Regions from separate parts of the Homo sapiens genome. Here region 2 is linked to region 1. The links come from fine-mapping of genetic effects on gene expression. A gene starts in region 1. The other region holds a variant in brackets. All regions are shown on one strand. Distances are between the middles of the regions.

Region 1 (5,379 bases):
TAAAGATGGGGTTTCTCCATGTTGGTCAGGCTGGTCTCAAACTTCCGACCTCAGGTGATCCACCCACCTCGGCCTCCCAAAGTGCTGGGATTACAGACATGAGCCACAGCACCCAGCCTGAAATCATTCTTTTCTCCAGACATTAACATGATGGTCATCCCATCTCCAGGATTGGAGCCCAGTGGAAAATGTTCCTCTCGGGGCCTCTCAGCCTCACCCCCGCCTTTCCGCAGCTGTGGCAGCTGGGAATAGAACAGGTGGGAATACTTGCAGAAATATTTGCTGTCTTATCAGTCCCCAACTAAACAGTGTCCGAAAGTCAAAGCAACAGCTGAAAACCCGCCAGAGATGTTTTCATTAGACACACTGCATGTGACCTACACACACTGCTTTGGTTTCTTTAAAAAAATTTTGTTTGTTTGTCAGGAAGTTGCTCATGGGGACTCCACAAAACTTTCCCAGCAGTAGTGGAGAGACACGGGTAGGAGTTGAATACAGGAACCTCCTGCGCAAAAACTCAAGAGATAAAGACAGTGTAGCCAGCTATGTTCAAATCCTGGTGCTTAAAGCACTGAAGCCACATAACTGGACTAGCTGCTTAACTCCCTGAACTTGTTTCCTCTTCTGTAAAAAGGTAATAATAAACTATTTCAGTGTCATTGAAATTCTTAAGATCTTAAATTCTAATATTCTGTACAAGATAGCTTTTTATTATGACCAACTCATAAGCGAGATATATGTCATTATTAACATCGATAACAGAGAAAGGCCAAAGTAGGCAAGAGGCAAACCCCCCTTGGGGGGACGGTGAGCAGCTACGGAGGGGAGACAGGTGTGACATTATGCACCACAGCTCCAGGCACCCCAGCAGCAGCCCCTAGCCCTTGCTCCTCCTCCTCCTTGCTGCTCTTTCAAATAGACAGGAACAAGCCACTCACTCCCCACATGTGAACATGCTGGACTCAAGACTTGGCACATGGGCACTTCAACACCAAAGGGTACAGAGTTTTCCCCAAAAACCTGATACATCCATCCCACTTCAAAGCAACATGCCCCCAAGCCCTCACTCCAGTCTCTGCCCTGGAACCCAAGGCTCAACGTGGGCGTCGTGAGGACGCAGCTCTGAGGTGGGGCCAAGAACCAGGCCCCTTCTGCACCTGCGCCAGTCACCGGCTGCCCACAACCACATTCAGGAGAGAAGAACCTGAGGCTCACACACCTGAAGCAGCTTATCCCGAGACTCCAATTACCGCCAAAGGTCTTGGCTGAAGGCCTTGGAGGCTCAGGTGTCTGCAGAATTGGCTACAGAGGCATCAGAGGCTTCCTTACTGGAAGCTGGGGTCGGTCCTAATCAAGTTACTTCGTAGACAGCCTTGGCAACCCCAGGCTGTCGCTTCTGAGTTAAGTTAGTCTACAATCGTCTCTATGGAATGCTCTCAGGTTCTCCATTTGTAAATAGGGATGCAGTTACTTCACTCAACACCGTTCATACCTTTCAAAGGGAATACTTATTAAGGCAATAAACAGGGGTGAGGTCTGCTCGGAGGGATGGACAGCAGATCTAGAAGCCAGGACACTGGGGTCGAAGCCTGGCTCTGCTATATCGTACCTGGGCGACCTTGGGAAAAGTCACTTTAGCTCTGTGGCCTCAGTTTCTTCATCAGTAAAATTCAGAGGGGGGACTAGCTTCTGTCTCAGGTTCCTTCAGCTCCAAAAGCTTGCTTCTGGCTGTCTCCTCACTGCTGGAAATGCCTGATAAAACAGCCAAACACCGCTGCTAACAGAAACCGGCTCTAGGCTTGAGCCTGCGGCCCTGCCCCTCACGTGCGGGCAGAGCCCCCGCGCGCCTCCTTCCCGGGGAAAGCATGCCCAGGACCCGGTGCTAGAGGCCGAATGGACTCGGCGCAACGGAGGTCTCCGGCGAGAGAGAAGAAGAACAAAACGCCCCCGCCTGCTACACGCCTCAGAGACCCACGTGCACCGCTCCTTTAAATGCACCGGCCCTTTAACCGCTCGCGCCGCGCCCACCCCCAGCCGGGGCTCGGCGGCAGGCGGGCGCAGGGAAGTGGGGACGCAGTGAGGCCGAAGGCCTGAGGGCCGCTCCCCGCGATCCTTCCACGACCCAGTTCCGGGCCGGCCCAGCCGCCGCCTGCCGGGCACTCTCCTCTCTCCGCCCCCGCGCTGGCCGCAGAGGCCAGGAGCGCTGCGCACGCAGGGGCCGCAGACCCACAGCCGGGGAAGGGACCGTGGCCAGAGGCGTGCGGAGGGCAGGGCAGGGCCCTCAGGGCGCAGCCCCACCCCGGGCCCTCAGCGCCGCAGGCGACAGGGCCCTGGCCTGGGCACCCCCCGGCACCGCCCGCTCACCTGCTCTGCCGCCGCGCTCCAGCGGAGTTTACGCAGCTGGCTGAGCGCCCGGCCGGACCCGGCGCCGGCCCAGGCCCCGCCCCACGCCCGCCCAGGCCACGCCCGGTGGGCGACGCCGCGTTCCCTCGTCCACTGGGGCCCCACCTGGAGTCCCGGGCGCGCGGGGAGGGTGGCCTTCACGCCGCGTGGATGACAGGGTCATCCCGACGTCGGAACTAAGCGACGACCTTAGAAGGAGTGGAGGCCGGGCCTGTCATCTTCCTGCGGGCCTGGCAGCAGCGTGGGGCGGTAGGACATAGGCTTCGAGGACACTCTTTCTTGTAGTTTTGGGTCCACATCCCCTCCTCCTCCCGGTTGTTCTCACATTAAAGGAGCACTAATGGCCCAATGTGAGCTAACACCATGAGAATGTTCCTGGTCTGTTCCCTAGGGCGCTTCAGAGCCACCAGGAGCTCTGCATAAAATTGAACAGGAATAAATTGCTGCCTGACCTGAGAATTGGCCTAGGGGGTTGTGGTTCCAGGATTTGGGGTCTGTGGGGTAGGTTGAGATTGTCAATAATTTGGCGTTGTCTGAGTAGTTTTACTTTTTTTTTTTTAACTTAAGGTGAAATTCACATAACATAAAATTTACCATTTTAAAGTGGGCATTTCAGTGGCATTTAGTGAATTCACAATGCTGTGCAACCACCACCTCTGTCTAGTTCCAAAACATTTTCCTCATTCCGAAAGAAAAACCCCATACCCATTGAGAAGTTTCTTCCCAATGCCCTCTTCCCCCCCAGCCCCTGGCAATTACCAGTCTACTTCTGTCTCTATATTTACTTACTTTAGATACTTCATATAAACGGAATCACAGTGTGTGGACTTTTGTGTCTTTCACTTAGCATGTTTTCGAGGTTCATCCTCAGGTAGCATGTAACAGACTTTATTCCTTTTTATGACTGAATAGTGTTTGTGTGTGTATATGTATATGTGTGTGCGTGTGTGTGTGTGTATCATGTATGCCACAGTTTATTCATCTATGGACATTGGGGCTGTTTGCATCTTTTGGCTTTGTGAATAATGCTACCATGAACATGCATGTACATGTATTTGTTTGAGAGCCCATTTTTATTTGGGGAGGGTACATACATAGGGGTTGAATTGTTGGATCGCATGGTAATTCAATTTTTTTTTTTTTTTGAGACAGAGCCTTGCTCTGTTGCCCAGCCTAGAGTGCAGTGGCCGCAATCTTGGCTCACTGCAACCTCTGCCTCCCAGGTTCGAGCAATTATCTTGCCTCGGCCTCCTGAGTAGCTGGAGTTACAGGTGTGTGCCACCACATCTGGCTAATTTTTGTATTTTTAGTAGAGATGGGGTTTCCCCATGTTGGCCAGGCTGGTCTTGATCCTGAACTCAAGTTATCTGCCTGCCTTGGCCTCCCACAGTGCTGGATTATAGGCATGAGCCACCGTGCCCAGCCTTCAGTGTTTAACTATTTGGGGAACCCCAAGTGGTTTCCACGATGGCTGAACCATTTTATATTCCTACCAGCAATGTACAGGATCCCAATTTCTCCACATCCTCACCAACACTTGTTATTTTCCATTTTATTGTTATCCTAGTAGGTGTGCAGCGGTACCTCATTCTGGTTTTGGTTTACATTTTCCTAATAACTAATGCTATTAAGCATTCTCCTTTTCATGTGTTTGTTGGCCATCTGTATATCTTCTTTGGAGACATGCCTATTCAAGTCCTTTGCCCATTTTAAAATTGGGTTGTCTTTTTGTTGTTGGGTTGTAAGAGTTCTTTATATATTCTGGACACTAGACCCTTATCAGATATATGCTTTGCAAATATTTCTCTCCCATTCTGTAATTGTCTTTTTCACTTTCTGATGTCCTTTCATGCACATAAAACTTTAATTTTGATGAACTTCAGCTTAACTGTTTTTTCTTTTGTTGTTTGTGCATTTGGTGTCCTGTGTGAGATATCATTGTCAAATCCAAGGTTGTGAAGATTTACTCCTGTGTTTTCTTCTAAGAGTTTTATAGTTTTAGCTCCTATATTTAGGTTGTTGATCCATTTTAAGATAATTTTTGTATGTAGTGTGAGGTTAGGGTCCAAGTTCATTGTTTTGCATGTGGACTTCTAGTTGTCCCAGCACCATTCGTTGAAGAGATTGTCCTTTTCCTATTGAATTGTCTTGGCTTCTTGTCAAAAATCAATTGGCCATAGATGGATGGGGAAAACCAAATATTTTCAAAGAGCTGTTTAAATGCAGATTAACCCTGGATGGAACTGGGGCAGGCCAGCATTTTGGCTAAGAAAATAATGGTCCAAATAATGATCTTTGATAAATTTGAGAAATTAATTACATTTAACAGAATTATAAAAATAATCGATTCTTGGAAAAGGAAGGACACCTGAAGGTCACAAAGTCCAACTCTAACTGATGCATATGAGCCCTTGCTACAGAATTCCTGGGAAATAACTCCCCAACCTGGTTTGTTGTTGTTGTTGTTTTGAAACAGGGTCTTGCTTTTTCGCCCAGGCTGGAGTGCAGTGGCACGATCTCAGATCACTGCAACCTCTGCCTCCCAAGTTCAAGTGATTCTCTTGCCTCAGCCTCCCAAGTTAGCTGGAATTACAGGTATGTGCCACCCTGCCCAGCTAATTTTTGTAATTTTAGTAGAGAGGGGGTTTTTGCCATGTTGACCAGGGTGGTCTCGAATTCCTGACCTGAAGTGACCCTCCCGCTTCGGTCTCCTGAAGTGCTGGGATTAGATTACAGGCATGAGCCACCGCGCCCATCCCTGATTGGTTGTTGTTGTGTTGTTGTTATTTAGCTTTCAGTGTTGCACTTGATAGGCTGAATTTCCCCTAATGTGAAGAGGCTGCATATGCCCTAAGGTGAAGCATAATGACTCAATAAATGAGTTAGGAAGTTGTGATATAATAAAAATAAATATTTGGTCTTTATCCCCGTTCCTGGCACAAGCTTCTAAAACCTTTGGAATCTCAGGTGTGATGA
Region 2 (5,379 bases), 28 kb before region 1:
CACAAGGTTGGCACTGGGTAAGGGTTTGCTACTGTCACTGTTACTCTCTACAGAGTCCACAACCACTGTCTCGAGGTCCTTCCTAAGGTGTCCAGTGTTGCACACAGCAACACAGCACTTCTGCTTATATTCAGTTGGCCATTAGTCACATGTACTGACAAGTATCTCCCTGGCTGCCTTCAGGGAGCTCTTGGCCAATGTCCTAAAAGCTTCCCCACAGCTTTCTGGCCATTCACTCAGACCGGACCCTTCCTCCCTACCACCATTCAAAGCTGTCCCAAAATCCACGGTCCCTCACAACACCTTTCTCAAGTAGCTGAAAGAAAGGCAGTGGTTACAGGACCCTTCCTTCTCAGCGGGTGACCACAGGACCCTGCCGCCCCATTCGACTCACATAAGCATAAAACACATCACCGAATCACAAACTGCAGGCATGCTTCTACTTTGCATAGTTTCATCGGCTTGCAATCCACATAGACTGTGCTGTCAGGCATGAAAATTGTCCACAGAGGGGGCAGGGGGGTGCACATGGATCTGCACCTCATCCTTGGTCACTCTAAGCCACTCGCAGGCATTCTGTAGAGAGCCAATGGTGGCAGCGGTGGGGGGCAGAGGGTCTCCTAACCACTGACCATTCTGACTGCTGGTCCAGCTCCATCACCTTCCCCTCATTTTAACCCCAGGATGGAGGTCTACCTTAATCCCCACTGCTGTCATCTGCTGCCTCCCGGGGCCCATTTCCACCGTCTTTGAAGACATCAGCTTGTGATTCACATGATCCCTCACGACCCCATTTTCTCATTGTTTTGGTAACTTCATTATCTGCATTGGTAAACCAAAAGACACGCCATAACCACGTATCCCTTATCTTGTTTAGGTGGATATATGGCCACTTGAAATAAAGACATTTCCCAGTCTCTCAGTCTCAGACAGGTATGGCCGTGGGACTAATGGCCAATTGAATATAGGCAAAAGTGCTGTGTGCAACTTTGAGACATGTTTTTAAGAAGAGGAAATGCACCCTTTTCTAACCTCCTTTCATGCTGGATGGAGTGTGACTTGACGGCTAGCACACAGCAGCCAGCCTAGGTCATGAGGTGAAAGCCACTTACTGATCTCAAAGGAAAAAGAGGCATCTGACCCCTGATACCATGCACTATTGCACCCTCTCCAAGCTGCCTGTGCCTGTGAAAGGATTCTAGCCCATCTTGTTTAAACCACTGCAGTGACCTAACCCTTACTGACTCCCACCACCATTCCACACTATTATACTTCTGTAGCTTTATACTGTTTTAGGAGATCCAGTGTAACTTCAGATTTACATACCCTCTGCCTCTAGCATCTCAGGAACAGAAACTCTCAGGACAGGCCCCATCTTCTCCTTTCACCACCTAAGTTTCTCTGCTTCAATCACCTGGTGAGGCATTGGCCTGCGAGAGAGCAAGTTCTATTAACAGTAGAGAGCTCAGGAACCCATCCACCCACTTATGGAAACTTGGTATATGTCAGGAGAGTTCTACAGACCAGCGAGAAAGGAGAGACTGTTCAGTAAACAGTGCTGGGACACCTGGTTACAAAGAAAAACAAAATTAGGTCCCTACTAAATACAATCATAAAAATACATTTCAGATGAACTAAAAATCTTATTATGAAAATAAAAATTTAGAAAACCTTGAGGGTAGGGAAGGATCTCTTAAAACAAGATTCAATGGCATAAGCCATACAAGCAAAAAACTGATAGATTTAATAACATTAACATTTAAAAATTACTTGGGTCCAGCAAAACACTCCTAAAGGCAGGGAAGAGAGGCAAGCCACAATGTACCAGACATTTGCAATGCATATAATTAATCAAAGATTAGCATCTCTCCAGAATATATATTTTAAGAGGCTTAAATATCCGTAAGACAAAAAATCCAAGTGAAAAATGGGCAGAGGATATGAACAAGTAACAGAGAAGGAAACTTGGGCTGGGCGCAGTGACTCACACCTGTAATCCCAGCACTTTGGGAGGCCGAGGCGGGTGGATCACGAGGTCAGGAGATCGAGACCCTCCTGGCTAACACGGTGAAACCCCATCTCTACTCAAAATACAAAAAAACTAGCCGGGCGTGATGGCAGGCACCTGTAATCCCAGCTACTCAGGAGGCTGAGGCAGGAGAATGGCATGAACCCGGGAGGCGGAGCTTGCAGTGAGCCAAGATCACGCTGCTGCACTCCAGCCTGGGCGACAGCGCGAGACTCTGTCTAAAAAAATTAATAATAATGAACAGAGAAGGAACCTTGTACAGCCAATACACATATGAAAAGATAATTATAAAACCTAAAGGAAATGACACCCATCCAATCAGACAAGATGAAAAGTCTGATGACACCAAGTATTATAGAGTTGGGGAACTCTCAGATTGCGGATGGAAGGATAAACAGACACATACTTGGAGGGTAATTGGGAATGTCCAGTCAATTGGGGGAATTCCAATACTTCCTCAAATCCACACAATGTGATGGGATGCTCACTGCAGCACAGCTGTAATACAGAAACACTGCAAAACCCCTACAGGTCGATCAATAGCATATAAACAGTAGAACTCATACAATGGAACACTATACAATAGTTAAAATAACTGGGCTGGGCACGGTGGCTCACGCCTGTAATCCCAGCACTTTTGGAGGCCAAGGTGCGTGGATCACCTGCAGTCAGGAGTTTGAGACCAGCCTGGCTAACGTGGTGAAACCCCGTCTCTACTAAAATACAAAATTAGCCAGGCATGGTGGCGGGCAACTGTAATCCCAGCTACTCAGGAAATTGAGACAGGAGAATTGCTTGAACCCAGGAGGCAGAGG[T/C]TGCAGTGAGCCAACATCACGCCATTGCACTCTAGCCTGGGTGACAAGAGCAAAACTCCATCTCAAAAAATAAATAAAATAAATGAACTGGAGCTACATTTATACATGCCTCCAGAATGCAATATTTTAAAAAATTATCAAATATGTACAGTATGATACCATTTCTGTAAAGTTAAGAAAACATGCCAACATACAAAACAAAACTAACCATAGATGAGAAGGGCAGAAATCGACTTCAGGACAGGAGGCGGAGGCAACAGGACTGGGGCCACATACAAACAGGACTTCAGAACGTGGGTTTTATTTCTAAAGACAAATCTGGAGCAAATATGGAAAGATATTAGTTGACGGGTTACACGGGGGAGATACAGGTGTTTGAACACCAGTACCCTGCTCTTGTTCGGCATGTTCGAATGCTGTCTTTTACAAATTCTCTCATTTTTCTTCTTTGCCATTTGTGTTCTGGGTTCATTTGTCTCCCTGCTCTCTGGGGACCTCCAAGTAGCATCTCCTCCAGTGTCTTTGTTCTCTCCAATGCTCTTCCCTCGTCTTCTCACATGTCCTTGTTTTCTCAGTCTTAACACTTCACCCTAACCATCACCAGGCCCCTTCATTTCTTCCTCCCTCGCTGTCTACTTAAGGGCCCCCAATTTCTGCCTTTACCTCTGAATGTGGTCTCCACCCAGCAACCCTTGGCCAGGCCTTTGAAAGACCTCAAGCTTAATGATTCAAAATATATGTCCAATCCCATCTTTGGAAACCCCACCCTAAAACTGCTCTTCTGAAGATAAACACTGCCATAATTGCCAAATTGAATAAGCTTTTCAGTTTTTCTTTCCCCTTAACCTCTTGCGAGTTGTCACCATCAGGGACCATCCCTGTCTGCTTTACCCGCTCCCCGCTGTGGCTTCCATGACGGCAATGCCCCCCATCCCAGGTCTCTGACCTGCACTACTAATCAGTGGGATTCCACCCGCCAGTGTTCGGCCTCCTCTGTCCTTCCTTCTTAGGGCACCACATTTTCCTCTGCCCTTCCTCAAACAGCCTGGGGGAAAGCAAGCTCCTGTCAAATGTCAAGATACACAATTCTCATTCCTCTCATAATAAAGATGCATTGTCCCGGCACTCATGTTATTCCTGGAACAGGGAGACAGGGGTACCAGTTTGAACCCCAGGGCACACTTGCGTCTTCTCAGCTGTCTGATATACCTAACACCTGCTTGATCTCGGCTCATTGCAGCCTCAGCCTCCTGGGCTTAAGTGATCCTCCCACCTCAGCCTCCAGAGTAGCTGAGACTACAGATGCATGCCACCATGCTTGGCTAATTTTTAAATTTTTTTTTGTACAAAGTCTCACTATGTTGCCCCGGCTGGTCTCAAACTCCTGGGCTCAAGTGATCCTTCCGACTCGACCTCCCGAAGTATTGGGATTACAGGTGTGAGCCACTGTGCTCAGGAAGAGGCACTTCTGAGATTCTCTTTGCAACCCATGATTGATGTACAGAGAAGGCAAAGCCAAACTGTCCACTCTCCCACCACAGTGCCCAGGGCCAAAGCCAGAGAAGGAAAGGAGAGTGGTTTCTGAGCTCAGGCCCTCACAGGCTTCTGCAGAGGGTGAACACTTGCTGAAGGAACCACTGGATGTTTTGGCAACCACCTGGCAGTGTCTGTGCCACCGTGCACAACTGAGTCCAGGGACCTGCTCAGCATCCACAGCCTTACAGCTCAGGGCTGGCAGATGTCAGGCCACCCTGCTCTCCTAACTCCTTTGCTTAGGAAACTTTCTAGTTAAAGAAATGTGTGCAGAGAGGCGAGATCATTAAAAGTTCCTTCAAACAGGGCAAACTGCCTCCATCCTGGGCTCACAGCACAAGTTATCCCAGGGGTGCCCAAGATGCAGGGAGAGGGGTCAACATTTACAACGGACCAAACTCCAAGATTCTAACAGGACTCATCTATTTATTGATATTACTATTAAGCCACTTCCCAGCAGTGTGACTGCCGTAACAAGAACAGGACTCAGTTTCTAAAGGCAATAAAATAACAAGGACATCATGGACAAAGCATTGGGAACACTCCTCGTAGGGAACTGGCTTTTCCTCTCCAGCCAGAGCACCCAGGTGCCAGGGGCCACTCCCGAGCACACTCTTTGCGCATCTCAGCCCTCATGCCGGATGCTCTTCTCCCCGCCCTAATCTGACCTTCTCAGTTCATCTGGATAAACCTGCTGTGCTTCCTGTCCGTGAAGCGAGGCGCTCCCCAAAGCGGGAGCCAAAGTCTGGTGATGAAACAGCTGGCACCAAAGAGCTGGTTCTGCCTCCTCCTCACCAAGTAAACACGTACTTTATTTTTTAAGGAAAGAAAAGTCTTAAAAATATATGGCACTAGAGTGTAAAACTATACAACTGCATCCAATGAAAATTCCCTGCAGCTTGCAGCCTGTGGCACACCATGTCCCTCAGATGTAGAGCTGATGGGAGGCCAGGGTGTCCATGAACGGCCGCACCAGGTTGTCCGTGGAGAAGTAAAAGATGA

Direction of the effects. Positions count from the first base shown, and alleles are read on the strand shown. Sizes are in standard deviations (SD) of each study's normalised expression.
For the expression in visceral fat of the gene that starts at base 2,398 in region 1, T is the low allele of the variant in region 2 and C is the other (small effect, 0.40 SD a copy in GTEx).

What was found. PIP is the estimated chance that this variant, and not a neighbour inherited with it, causes the effect. A credible set is the group of variants that fine-mapping cannot tell apart.
Region 2: its variant is the best candidate, but not a certain one, in a credible set for the expression of PSEN2 in visceral fat (GTEx, PIP 0.73).

Annotation. Positions count from the first base shown.
Region 1 is chr1:226,867,635-226,873,013 of GRCh38, reverse strand. It overlaps PSEN2 (presenilin 2), which reads right to left and starts at 2,398. Exons shown (of 13, transcript NM_000447.3): 1 at 2,365-2,398; 2 at 1,610-1,752. LOC105373119 (a long non-coding RNA gene) reads left to right here and starts at 2,464. Exons shown (of 3, transcript XR_949226.4): 1 at 2,464-2,652. RefSeq lists silencers at 1,936-1,985, 1,996-2,595.
Region 2 is chr1:226,895,503-226,900,881 of GRCh38, reverse strand. It overlaps PSEN2 (presenilin 2), which reads right to left. Exons shown (of 13, transcript NM_000447.3): 13 at 4,784-5,379. The coding sequence ends at 5,303. Among named protein-coding and RNA genes, the nearest start is that of PSEN2, 28 kb to the right of the region's middle. RefSeq lists a silencer at 4,757-4,988. The variant T/C (reference allele first, on the strand shown) is at 2,845.